Linked DNA regions of Homo sapiens. The protein of the gene in region 2 interacts with the protein of the main gene of each other region in a biochemical or structural test. Each region holds a gene or a part of one and is shown on either strand. Other genes may lie near its edges.

Evidence for each region. The genes of interacting proteins can lie anywhere in the genome.
Region 1: of the proteins of GAD1 (region 2) and PRKCE, one has a biochemical effect on the other in vitro, tested with the Homo sapiens proteins (one study listed by BioGRID).

Annotation. Positions count from the first base shown.
Region 1 is NC_000002.12:46,144,675-46,151,708, reverse strand, and holds part of PRKCE (protein kinase C epsilon type), read right to left. Parts: intron 6,617-7,034; coding exon 6,478-6,616; intron 669-6,477; coding exon 480-668; intron 1-479.
Region 2 is NC_000002.12:170,826,873-170,833,906, reverse strand, and holds part of GAD1 (glutamate decarboxylase 1), read right to left. Parts: intron 4,433-7,034; coding exon 4,274-4,432; intron 2,958-4,273; coding exon 2,715-2,957; intron 1-2,714.

The DNA of each region.
Region 1 (7,034 bases), about 120 Mb from region 2:
CACAGTGATGCTGTCGTGGACACAGGTGGGCGGTGCCCACCCTCCCTCCCCTCCTCTCTGTTCTCCATCACAGGTCCCTGATGAAGACAGGCCACAGGTAAGGAAGGTATGGAAGTGGCAGAGGTGATGTCAGCACAGTTGAGTTGCTTCTGTTCCCTCTGAAATGCTGGAGGACACAGATGTACACAGTGCCTCATCTCAGGAAGCACAGACATGCGCTCCTCTTCCCACCAGAAGAGCAAGTCATCTCAGGCCCCATTCTCTTGGCAGCAGTCCTCTGCACTGTGCCTGAACTCCCAGTGGCAACTGCCCTTAATCCTTCCCATTCCGTGGTGATGAGCAGAGGTGGGAGGGAGAAAGCTGGACAGAGAAAGGGAGAAGGGAGTGTGTGTGTGTGTGTGTGTGTGTGTGTGTGTGTGTGTGTGTGTAGGGGGAGGAGCCCAGGAGAGCACAGCCATGGGTGAGGGGCAGTGACTCACAGCTTTCAAGATGCTGACAGCCTCCTTGCTGAGCCAGACTGGGTACAGCACGTCGTCATGGAGGATGGACTCAAATAGGTCGTCCTCATTGTCGGCCTCAAAGGGAGGCTGTCCAGCCATCATCTCGTACATCAGCACCCCCAGGGCCCACCAGTCCACGGAGGGGCCATACTCCAACTCCTGCAGGATCTGTTCAGGAAACCAGCAATGTCAGGCACCATCAAAGGCTCCCACCCCAGTGACACCCGTGCTACGAACGCCCATGGGAAGGACTTCAATTCCAACTTGCTCCTCCCTACAGTTGAGTCCTAGTCCTAGAAGTTCTAAATCAGCAAATTCAGTGACAGTTGAGTTTGGAGGCACTATGCTGGGGGCCAGCTATCATCTTTCCAAAGTCAACATCGACAGTCTGTCTTCCAGTGGGAACAAATTCCTATTTCTTTGAGCACCAGATAAAGTTCCTGACTGGCATGAGGGCCACATTTTAAAAAACTGCATATTTTGACACTAAAATCAGGGTCAGGGGAGCACGATGCATACTGAGAGAACAAGCTGTAAGTGACTCAGAGTGCAGCGAGGTCAGGTCTCCCATCTCACACAGTCCAGGGCACAGCTCACTGCCTGAGTGGAAAGGTGAGCAGAGGTCTTCTTTAAATGGTGCAACACTCAATTTACCTGAGCCCTGTGCTCCTGGAGAGGAAACTGCAATGAATAAGTCTCCCCCACCCTGTAATGGTCTCCCTATAAAGGACCACTATACTCTTGCATATTCTAAGAAAAAACCCATCTCTATTGTTCATCATGATTCCCATAAGATCCACTGAAGAATCCCCCACTTTGCCTGCCTCTACAAAACCGTAGGCCCCCTTCCTTTGGGGCCACCTTCACTAATGAACCCCCTATTGCAATAGCCAGAATCGAACCATCTCCTTGATTGTCTGGTGCATTTTGTCTTTGACAATGGTCACTTGTCTTATCTATGCTGTCTCTCTTTTTCCTCTAGCCAAATATGTAGAGTCAAATTCACTTAGATTAAATGCATGTATGACATGATGCTACTGAATACAAGACATCTTTTCTGGCTGGGCGCAATGGCTCACACCTGTAATCCTAGCACTTTGGGAGGCTGAGGTGGGAGGATCACTTGAGTCCAGGACTTCGAGACCAGCCTGGGCAACATGGTAAGACCCTGTCTCTTAAAAAAAATTAGCTGGGCATGGTGGTACGTGTCTGTAGTCTCACCTTCTCAGAAGGCTGAGGTGGAAAAATCACTTGAGCCCGGGAGTTTGAGGCTGTAGTGAGTCATAATCATGCGACTGCACTTCAACCTGGGTAACAGAGTGAGACCCTATCTCAAAAAAAAAAAAAAGGATCTTTTCTGATTGGCTATTCTATTTGATCTGCTCTCCATACACATATGTCATAAATACATGATACACACACACGCACATATAAATATGTAGCATGTCAATGACATATATATATAAATACATATATATAAATACATATATATAAAAATACATATATATATATATGGAGATGACATCCAATAGAAAAGACTAGAATTTAATATCACCTTTCAGCTGTATAGAGCTTTGTATTTTACAGTATGCCTTTAAAATATAACATATATAAATAAAATAAATATGTAGCAGATCAATGATGTGTTTGGCTCAGAGGAAAAATAAATGCTGAGCTGTCCACTCTACAAGGAAGAGATCATGAGGTGACATTCCCATTCCACAATTATTTTCTCTTCTTATTAGAGTGGGATTAGGCATGGCTCTGCCCAGAAACAGGAGGGTGGATGAGATGACCTATCCAGGTCCATAATTCTATAAAGAATTTTAAAAAGGGAAGGAGAAACAAGGTTGGAGTGCATATCCTGCAAGGGGGAACACTTTGAGGACCCTGAAAAAAAAAGGCAAAGTTCATGCCTAGTCATTCCAGCCCATGGGACACCTTGGGCAGATAATATCTCAGGCTGGGGACAAGGCTCCAATTTAGTTCTCAGATTTCATGGTGGCCAGGGAAGAGGAGGCTGAATTCAAGTATCTGGACTTTCTGTGGTCTGCTCAAAATACCCTTCTAGAGGTTACAAATTGCTTAGGATGAACTAGAAAGATTTGGATAGAAGAAGCATTTAGAAACAGTTAAAACACTCACAGTTTAGAATCTTCTGAATTTGGAATGAAAAGGAATTTGAGAAAATGCAGCCAACTCTACATTACTTGGGGCTGGTAATCTGTTTAGCTAATACCTTTGGTCTAAGCCCAGTGGTTAGTGTTCCTTGAGCTGTAAGGTCAAAGCTATGGGCTCCACTGTCCTGAGGAGCCAGTGATTCTGCTATGCTCCAAAGCCAATGCCAACTCCTCCCTCAACCTCAAAAGACACAGCGCCCAACTTAAGACCCCTGCCTGTTCCTACGAGTTGCAGGCACTTTCTCACTTTCCACATACCACTACGTCGTTAGTTATTTTTTCATGGCCAGCGGTCTCCCCAGTGCAACTATAAGGTACCAGAGGGTAGGAGCTGTAACATGCTACTGAGCCCAGTGCTGTGGCCAGCCTGTTCTATCATCCAGGAGACAGTCAACATCTTGTGACTGGCTAGCATGCATGGCCACTGTGTGTATCTACTGGGCATGCTCCCTTCTCTTCTAGCCTCAGGGCACACTGGGTGCTACAGTGGCTGCCCTCCAGCTTCTCGGAAGGAGGCAGCTGGGTTCTGTGCCTTCAGGGGGTGGGGAGAAGGTGGCTTGTGTGTGCTGAGACTGGATGGTGCTGTGGAAACCACAGAGCCGCCCTGCCACCCCACTCCAGGCCCCTTCCACAGCCTTCTCATTTTGGGTGGCATCTTTTGTAAGATTCCTTTTAGGCTTGGCTCTAATTATCTGCTTCCTAATTAACTGTCGGCAGTGGATCTGGGCAGAAGGGCAAGGCTTCCATGTCACGGGAAGTCACCTGGAGCCAACCCCTCAAGTGCGTCAGAGCTCGGGAGAAGGGAGAAGGGAGAAGGCATTGGCCCTGATGATGCTATTACCAAAGGCTGGTGGCCACTTCCTGGGAAGCAGGGGCTGGGAGTGGGAAAGCAGAGGGGGTGCCATGGGGCATATCATGTGGCAGGAAGATAAGCCTTGGGGCAGACCTCATGCCTCCAAAGCTGTCTCTGGTTTTGAGGTTAGCTCAGCACCTTACCACCTCTCCCATTTGAATGGAGGCTTCTGCTTTCTCAAGCATTTCCATGCTCTAATCTCATTAGATTCTCAAAGCAGCTTGATGAGGTAGGTAGGGAAGGAGTTATGGCTCCCATGTGAAAGATGAGAAACCTGAGACTCAAAAACATTTTGTGACTTCATCAAGTCATCAAATGCTCATGTGTACATTTGTGGTCAAATCTGGACTCAAGACTCAATTCTCAGGATTGCGTTTCCTATCCCATCACACAACCCAACAATGATGATAACCATGAAGCCACCATTTAGCCAGCACTCCCTGTGGGCTGGGCACTGGGCTAATGCTTTAGAGGCATAATCTCATTTAATCTTCCCAGTAGCCCTCGATGAAGGCAGCAATACCTTTATCAGCTGTAATTTGCCTACAGCAAGACCAGGGATTGTCATTGCCAGTGCAGAGATGTTTCTGCACGGTGGGCACGAAGGCCAGAGCAGGAAGGAAGAGTGTCTGTGCTTCATTGTGAACAGAGATCAGAGTTGTTCATTGTGAGTCTCACCAATGGACTGCTTTTCATGAAAGCTGAGTGGCTATTTTGTTCATTATAAAGTGAATGTTCTGTCTTGGGTTGGGTCCTTAACTATAACATGGGCTGTCAACTGTTAGGCTCTGGCATCAACTTACAGAGGAACTGGAACTGAGTATTCTGACAATGAAGAATGAATGATGGCATCAACTTAGAGAGGAACTGGAACTAAGTATTCTGACAATGAAGAATGAACGAAGAACACGAGAAAAGCAGTTCCCTGTCGAAAGCTCTTGCTTTCATTTGTTGCTCCTTGAAGGCTGAATTCCTAGTGTTCTTGCTAAGGAAATACATTTGCAGAAAGACTGAAATCCCTACTCTTTAGATCTCTTAGAAGATAAAGGTTCTAAAGGGAAACTACCTATTACTCATCACCTTCACTTCGAGATGTTCCTCAGGCCTCCCCTGTCTTGTGTGGTCTGTGAAGCCTCCTGACCATCAGTCCCTCACTCCCTGCCTTCTGATCTGCACAGCTGTGGCCTTCCTTCTTCCTGGGATGGATCTGACTAGGACTCTCCTCCACTGAAACCCTGAGTGGGTCCACAGATCCTACAGGATCAAAGCCACATTCACTGGGTCTTTATCCCAATCTCATTCATTACTATGAGCACCAGGAAACCCTATGATCTAGCTACACTTTTTAACTGTCCTGGAAAAGACCAAGATGTTTTTGTCCCTTGGCCTTTGCTCATGTTGGAATGTCATAAGTTGTCATTTTTTAACAAACCTTTCTAAGATCCTGATTTGTGTGCCGGATCCTGGCAGTACCCAGATTAGAAACACAGACCCTGCCCTCAAAGGATCCAGGGCCCAGGGACACTGAACCTCCTTTCCTGTCCTGCCCCCGTTCCAATCCTGTTGTTTTCAGGAATACCCTCCCCACCCCTTCCGTCAAAGGAAATCCTCATTCTTTACAACTCAATTCATCCACCAGGTGCTCCAAGAAGCCTTTCCTGATCCCTGAGGATACCATCTTCTTTTATGTGCCTATTTATTCTGCTTAATTAGTTGTTTACTTATCTATCACTCCCTTTAGACCAAAAGCTTCTTTAGAATAGGGACAAGTGTCTCAGTCAGTTCTTTATCTCCACATTGCTTTGTGCCTAGCACGTGCTCAAACAATGCCCACTGAAAGAAATGAGCTCTGAATGTGCTAATACCTATCCGCCATGGGCGATGTTTAGTGGGGATTGGTACTTCTTTCCTATCTTACATGTCTCAGAACCATGAAGATCATTTTGATTGTCTATGACAGGCCATGTCTTAAATCTGAATCACATCACACTAGTTATCTCTCAGTTTGGGCAGGAATAAGGCAAACAAACACTTCATGCTGAGCAAAACATCCCAAACAACTTTCAGGAAAGGCAACCTATTGGAGTGGTTCACAGTGAACATCTCTGATATCTGTATATAATGAGGCACAGTCACTCTCCTCTTCCTGCTCCATCCTGTGTACTCACAGCATAGAACTGCCACTATGCAGGAAATAGCAAACAGTTCCTAGTTTTACTGTTAGCAAATTGTAGCTGATAAAGTGAAGTGCTCCCATGATCAATGATGCTCCTTTATTCTGATTTTATTTTTTACTTTTTTTTTTATTGAGACAGGGTCTTGCTCTGTCACCCAGGCTGGAGTGCAATGGTGCAATTATGGCTCACTATAGCCTCAACCTTCTGGGCTCAATTGATCCTTTCACCTCAGCCTCCCAAGTAGCTGGGACTACAGGTTTGCACCACTATGCCTGGCTAATTTTTGTATTTTTTATATAGACAGGGTTTCACCATGTTGCCCCGGCTGGTCTTGAACTCCTGGGCTCAAGCGATCTACCTGCCTTGGCCTCCCAAAGTGCTGGGATTACAGATGTGAGTCACTGTGCCCACCCTGTTCTGATTTTAAAGACATGAAAACAATAATAAAAGTCAACACGTTTTTCTTGGTCCTAGATTTATTGGTGGTTCTGGACTAGGATGGGAAAGAGATGTTCAGTGTGAACTTGCCCGGGTTTGGGAAATAGCCTGTTACTCTCATTTCACTCATCATCTCCCCAACACTAGGACTTCTTGACAGACATCAATCAGCAAACTTTTTTCCTTTCCTTTTCTCCCTCCTTCCTAGAATCCATCCTGGATTTCCAGAGCCTTCCCCCAGCACCACTAGATGACCCCAGTGCATGGGTTTGGACCCCTGCCTCGGTCCTGGCACCAGGAGGAGGTGAACCTTTGCACACAGGTCTTACCTCAGGAGCTATGTAGTCAGGAGTCCCACAGAACGTGGTGGTCGTCACACCATTCAGAATCCCTTCCTTGCACATCCCGAAGTCAGCCAGCTTGCAGTGACCTTCTGCATCCAGAAGGATGTTGTCCAGTTTCAAATCCCTGCAAGATAGGCCAGGACCATAATGTCAATACGTCACTCACCCCAATATAGTCTTCCTGAGTTGGAGGTATGTGCCTATCTTAGGGAAATCTCCAGCAAAAAAGTCCTGAAAGAAGCTTGTGTTTCTTGAAACCCATCTCAGTCCAGGGGCTCTCTCTCATGTTAGTCAGCCCCTAACGGCACCTCCACTTTCTTCAGCAAGAGGGAGGAACTTCTGTAACCCCAGGAATATATCAAGACTGCTGTGGTTTAATAGAGCTAAGTCAGTAGGTATATATAGAAGCCCTGCTATGCACCCACATTCATATTAATGAGATCCTGCTATGAAAGAAAGAAGCATCTACCCCTGTCCCTCATGAACTAACCATGGGGATCAGCTGGGGTTCCCAGCATGACACATAGGGACATCAACGAAAC
Region 2 (7,034 bases):
CACTGCAGCCTCCAGAGTAGCTGGGATCACAGGTGCACACTACCACGCTCAGCTAATTTTTGTATTTTTGGTAGAGATGGGGTTTTGCCCAGGTTAGTCTTGAACTCCTGAGCTCGCGTGATCCACCTGCCAGCCTGCCAACGTGATGGGATCACGAGTGTGAGCCACCAGGCCAGGCCCGTCAGTGCTTTCTCTGACCACAAGATGCTTTGGTTTTGTAGATAATATTAGTTGATATTATGACAAAATCATGTATTTTTATTTGAGGGACAACGCCATTCTGGGCTTTCATAATAAAATGATGTAGTTCTCATCTCTCTGAGAAAGCGCATGTAGAGCAAACTGGCAAAGTTCAAAATATCACACCAAAGCAAGTCAAGCTAAACATACATGGGGAATTCTGACTCTTTTTAAAATGCAGCCGAATAACACTATTTGTTTTCCATTAGGAATATATTAGCCATCTGACCAAGATGAGAAGTAACTAAATGTAAATTGATAGAGTGCTTTTCTTTAAAAATCAAACAACATAAATTTTGTACATATAACTGAGTCTTGTGTATCCATCAGTCATTTAATGAAGCTGCACTTATTCCAGTGGTGTTGGCAGACCTCAGCAGCTCTCTGGGATTCCTCATTTTAAAAAGCATCTTTGGCCAGCATCATTATTTCATTATAACACTTTGTTTTTGACATCCAATAGTCTTACTCAGCTCTATCACCACCAGCCTCCTAGTCTCAGTCTTAAATCTATCTTCAAATGACGAGGAAGAATGAGAGGGAAAATAAAGAAGGAGAGACAAAGAAGAAGAAAGAACACAGGATTGCCAGTTGTGGCCTTGGGGCTTCCCCTGTGGTGGCAACTAAGCTAGGGACTGTCAATTATTCTAGATCTGTCTGCCTGAGAGCTCAGGAAAGCCAGACTGTAGTGTGGAGAGAGTTATAGGGAGAAGAAACCACTGTGTCACTCCTGGGCTTAGTCCACAGTCTGAGCTGTTTCTAAGCATCTCAGACAGAGGCCCCAAAGTCCTTGAACTGGAGGCAATTGGAAAGCAACTGCTTTGATGAGGATTGCTGATTAGAGAGAGCTCCTGGAACAAGAAAAGGAGGCAAGAGGACATCCTCAAGGACTCCCACTGGAAATAGAATTTGGTGACTCAGAGTGTCCTAAGTTCCAGAAGTTGCAGTAGAATGAGAAGGCATGTGTGTATGTGTGTGTGTGTGTGTGTGTGTGTGTGTGTGCGCGCGCGCGCGCATGTGTGCCTGTGTCTTTTTGGCCTGTGTGTGCATGTGTCTTTTTGGCCTAGCTGGTAAAAGGTGTCATGGGTTGAATTGTGTTCCTCAAAAAGATATGTTCAAGTCCTAATCCCTGGTTCCTGTGAATGTGACCTTATTTGGAAATCGGGTCTTTGCGGATGTAATCATGTTAAGATGAGGTCATGCTGGATTGGGGTGGGCCTTAATCCAACGACTGGCATTCTTATAAGGAGAGAGAAATTTGGACACACACACAGGATGAAGGCCATGTGAAGTGAAGGCAGAGGTTGGAGCGATGCATCTACAAGCCAACAAATGCCAAGGAATATCCACAACACCTGGAAGCTGGTAAAGACAAGGGTGGATCCTCTCCAAGAGCCATCAGAGAGAGCATAGCCAGCACCTTGATTTTAAACTCCTAGCCTCCAGAATTGTGAGAGAACAAATTTCTATTGTTTTGAGCCATCCAATTTGTGGTCATTTATAATGGCATTCCTAGGAAACTAATACAGAAAGGGAGAGGAAATAGCCCAATTCTCCCCAGTGTCAGGGACAGGCAAGGGCAGGATTTATCAGAATGAAATAGACCTGAAAATGGAGGCAAGAAAAGAAGCAGAGGATGGGTCATTCTGCTCTCTTTAGGTTGTGAATAGCCTAAATCCAAGAATGAAAATTCTTTTTTTTGAGATAGGGTCCCAATCTATTGCCCAGGCTGGAGTGCAGTGGCACGATCTTGGCTCACTGCAGCCTCTGCCTCTTGGCCTCAGCCTCCTGAGTAGCTGGGACTACAGGTGCACGCCACCATGCCCAGCTCATTTTCATATATATATAAATATTATATAATTTATATTTATATATAATATATAATATAAATATTATATATAAATATTTATATATTATTTTTATATTTATTATTTATAATTTATTATTTTTAAATTTTATTATTTATAATTATTATTTATTTATTATATTAAATATTTATATATAAATATTTATATATAAAAATAGGTATATACACACACACACACACACACACACACACACACACACACACATATGTAGAGACAAGGTTTCGCCATGTTGCCCAGGCTGGTCTCGAACTCCTGAGCTCAAGTGTTCTGCCCACCTTGGCCTCCCAAAATGCTGGAATTATAGGCATGAGCCATTGTGCTTGGCCAGAATGAAAACTCTTTATACAGAACTTGACCTAGCACCAAGCATTTATATCTTTTTTATCTACTTTTACCATGATATATGCTGATGAACTTTTGCCTGGGTCGGGTCCCTCCACCAACTGTTACTGCCCAAGCTTGTTCTTGTGGTCACTGGGTACTTTGCCGCCTTATCTCACCAGGGCTGTGTTTTTCTTCCAACACAAGTTTGATATCCTCACAACTGGCAAGGGTGAGATGGAGGGCAAAGTTGCCACTACCTGTCTACCCAACTCTCCTCCTTACCTGTGCGAACCCCATACTTCAAGGTGTCTCTGCAGTCAACCAGGATCTGCTCCAGGGACTCGGGGTGGTCAGAGAGCTCCAAGTTGAAGCCCTCCATGCCTTCCAGCAACTGGTGTGGGTGATGAAAGTCCAGCACCTTGGTGGAGCGATCAAATGTCTTGCGGACATAGTTGAGGAGTATGTCCACCACTTCCAGGAGGAATTGCACGGTTTGCTCCTCACCGTTCTTAGCCGGAAGCAGATCTGAATTGGGGAGAGCAATGAATGGTTTTCACCTGACTCATATCTAGATTTCTTCAGCCCAGAGACCCCTAATATTAACCATGCTATCTGTATAGGCCTGATTTCATTCTGGGATATGTATGTGCACTGAGAATCGGATATACCACATCTCCAGAAAAATGCACATACACAGAAGTTTTGCACATGCTTCCTGGGGGTTCACAGCCTTTCTGACAGGCTGCTCAGACATGGAATGAAGTGCTCTGAGACGCCGTGAACAACCTGCGACTGCGGTTGTCATCTGCAGGTTGAATGGGCACCTGTGAGGAGTGTGATGGAGGGGGCATCTGTCGTGCTCCCCTGGGACCAGGTGTGTCCCTGTCTATCTGGTTTGGTGTTGTGATGTGCTTGGTCTGTTGGCATCAGAGGGTAAGGCCTCTGTGGGTAGAGGCTGGGGTTCCCCCTGAGGAGGGTGGTCCTTGGCGGTGTCCTTCGACAGGAAACTGGAGCTGGAAGATGGGGCTCAAGAAGGTGGGACAGGGAACCCCTGCCTCTTTCTTGACCCCACCCTTTTGGGCCTGGACTTTGAGATATCCAGAGGTGACTTTGGGTGACAGGCTCTGCAGTAGTCAGGCTAGAGGTTAGGCAGGGAAAAAAGCTGTAGGGGCCCAATTCTGTAGCTCACAGGCAGGCTGTGCAGTTGTGCACGATACTCTCTGTGACTTCCTGGGTTAGCTCCAGGGTTTTAGTGACATATTGTTTAATACTCTGGTCTGCCTTCTGTGGCCCTGTGGGAAGTTCACAGAAGGGGATGGAAGCGGATCTACCTATGAGCTGTTTGGGAGAGACTGGTAAAGCACCTCCTGAGATGAGTGTTGTGGGGCAGCAGGGGTTAGTAAAACATCTCTGAAAGGAAAACAAGTTCCAGGACACTCGTTGGTTATGAGGCTCAGCATGCAACTTCCCATAGTGTGATTTTGTGTGTATGTGTGTGGCCAATCTTCCAGGATAAACGTTATTAAGGAAATCATTAGATTTTCTTATATGCAAGGTTCCTTTGACTCTGAGAGTCTATGAATCCATATTTGTTCCCTCGAGTGTCTTTAGAGTTGACTTTTATTGACTGCCTTCATCCAGTTTCCAAAATGATGGAGACCTGGCCAGCAGGGAGGGAGGGAGTCAATTATATTCCCCCAAAGTCACAAAAGCAGTTTCATGTGGGTTCAGAGAGAATAATGACATTTCTTGATAAAAGAAGTAAAATTGCAGGAAAAAGTCAAGAAACTCAAATAAGAAATCTACTGGCTAGCATGGGGCGGGAGTGGGGCAGGGGCTACCTCTAGCAAACAGATTAGAGAAGTCAGTCTCTGTGCGCCGGAAGCGGGCATCCCGGTCGCTGTTTTCACAGGAAAGCAGGTTCTTGGAGGATTGCCTCTCCTTGAAGGCACTCACAAGGCGACTCTTCTCTTCCAGGCTGTTGGTCCTTTGCAAGAAGCCTATGGCACAAGAAGCTGGTCAGAGAGAGTGCTGCAAACTGCCCAGCCCCTGAGGGTCAGCTGCAGAGTGAATCAACTCTCCAAGCAGGGCTCTTGTTTCTCCTGAGAAAAGAAGTGAGTGTCTGTGTTTTAAATACAGTGGCTCTGGCACTGCTCGCCTTCAGGCAGGGAGGGGGGCAGTGCCAAATGTCATCAGTGGCAGAGGCCCAGTCATGCAAGAGAGAAAAACAGTAAGTGAAGCCCGTTCTCCTCTCTGAATGTGACAGTGAACTCACAATTAAGTAAGTTGGACAGCTTCCACTCCAGTGACCAGCCCCAGGATAGGGCTTTAAAGGAGGAGACACAATCAGAGAAGATGCTGCCAGCACTGTTTATGGGCTGTATAAGCAGAAGGAGGAGGGGAGAGAACAGCAGAGGTAGGAGGAGAGGTGAGGACAGCTGAGGGAGGAGGGTGAGGACAGCAGAGGGAGGAGGAGAGGTGAGGACAGCTGAGGGAGGAAGATGAGGATAGCAGAGGGAGGAGAGGTGAGGACAGCAGAGAGATGAGGAGGGGTGAGGACAGCAGAGGAAGGAGAGTGAGGACCACAGAGGGAGGAGAGCAAGGACCGCAGAGGGAGGAAGGCGAGGACAGCAGAGGGAGGAGAGGTGAGGACGGCAGAGGGAAGAGGAGGGGTGAGGACAGCAGAGGGAGGAGGGTGAGGACAGCAGAGGTAGGAGGGCGAGGACAGCAGAGGGAGGAGGGTGAGGACAGCAGAGGGAGAAGGGTGTGGACAACAGAGGAGGAGGGTGAGGACAACAGGGGAGGAGGGTGAGGACAGCAGAGGGAGGAGGGTGAGGACAGCAGAGGGAGGAGGGCAAGGACAACAGAGGGAAGAGGAGGGGTGAGGACAGCAGAGGAGGACGGTGAGGACAGCAGAGGTAGGAGGGTGAGGACAGCAGAGGGAGGAGAGCAAGGACAGCAGAGGGAGGAGATCAAGGACAGCAGAGGGAGGAGATCAAGGACAGCAGAGGGAGGACAGCGAGGACCGCGGAGGGAAGAGGAGGGGTGAGGACAGCAGAGGGAGGAGGGTGGGGACAGCAGAGGGAGGAGGGTGAGGACAGCAGAGGGAAGGGGATGAGGACAGCAGAGGGAGGAAGATGACAGCAGAGGGAAGAGGGTGAGGACAGCAGAGGGAGGAGGGTGAGGACAGCAGAGGGAAGGGGAGGGGTGAGGACAGCAGAGAGAGGAGGGGTGAGGACAGCAGAAAGAGGAGGGGTGAGGATAGCAGAGAGAGGAGAGGTGAGGACAGCAGAGAGAGGAGGGCGAGGACAGCAGAGGGAGGAGGGTGAGGACAGCAGAGGGAGGAGGGTGAGGACAGCAGAGGGAGGACAGCAGAAGGAGGAGGGGTGAGGACAGCAGAGGGAGGACAGCAGAAGGAGGAGGGGTGAGGATGGCAGAAGGAGAAGTAGTGAGGTCCAACACAGAGGATTCGGGCAGACACTTTCCTCCAGCACCAGGTAATGCTCACAGGGTTGAACGTAAGTGGTATTTTTCTGAATGCAAACCTGAATGCAGCTTTTCTTGCACCACCCCCTCTCCTTGAATGAAGGTACTGTGAGACAAAAAAAAGCTTCAATCTTCTGTGTTGCCATTTAATTCTATAAGTACTTATTGAGCACCTGTTGTACAAAAACACTTTGCTAAGCATCTAGGATTGGGGACTGATAAAGCTAGTGGGACAGATCCCCTGCCCTCCAGGAGCCTACAAGCCTGGCAGATGGTGACAAATGCTGGAATAAAACTAGTCATCCAAGAACTCCACAGAGATGACAGGAGGGATCTGAGCCCAGGGCGGGATTCTCAGTGCCTCACCTCTGCCCCTCGGAGTGAGTGGAAAGTTCTCCTGCCCAAGGTGAGCAGGACAAACTCCGGCAGCAAACGGGGAAAGAGGGTTAAGCCAAAAGGGCAGGAGAACCTGCCAGCGTGGAGCACACTCCCTCCACATCTCCACCATCCCCTGTGGGGCTCCTGGCCCGCACGTCTGCTCTTTCCTTTGGCTTCTCCTCCTTCAATTCAGCCTCAGTCTTAGCCCAAAATGCAGCACACTGAAAAGAGGAAAAAGGTTCTAAGCTTCTTGGTGACCCCAAAGCTGTTTCTGTAAATACCAAGAAACTTGCGGAGTCACACGTGTCACAAGGCAGACTTGGAAGAAAGTCCCAAGAGGTGCAAAAAGGCAAGTTAATCTGGAGAATTCAGCTTTGCTTCCCAGGACTACAATTCAACTGTGATGGGTGGGAGAAGGGGGGATGCATGGGAGGGCTGCGGTGATTAGAATCCTCCCACACAAGGGAGCCAGGGGCTATTTCTGGAGGGAAGAAGGGGAAAGCAGAGCCACCAAGCTTTTTGTTGCTCCCAGCACCTTTTACATTTATCACTAAAGCCCAAAGGACATGAGAAGGGGGGAAATACACTATAATAGAGCTCCACACTTGGGTATAAAGATGGGATTGTATCCTTTTCCATATCTCTTTGCCTACTTCCTGAATTCCTCCTCCAAATCCTCAAAGTCCAGAGCCAGGAGCCAGCACTCATTTGCCAGAGGGATGCAGGATCAGATGGCAC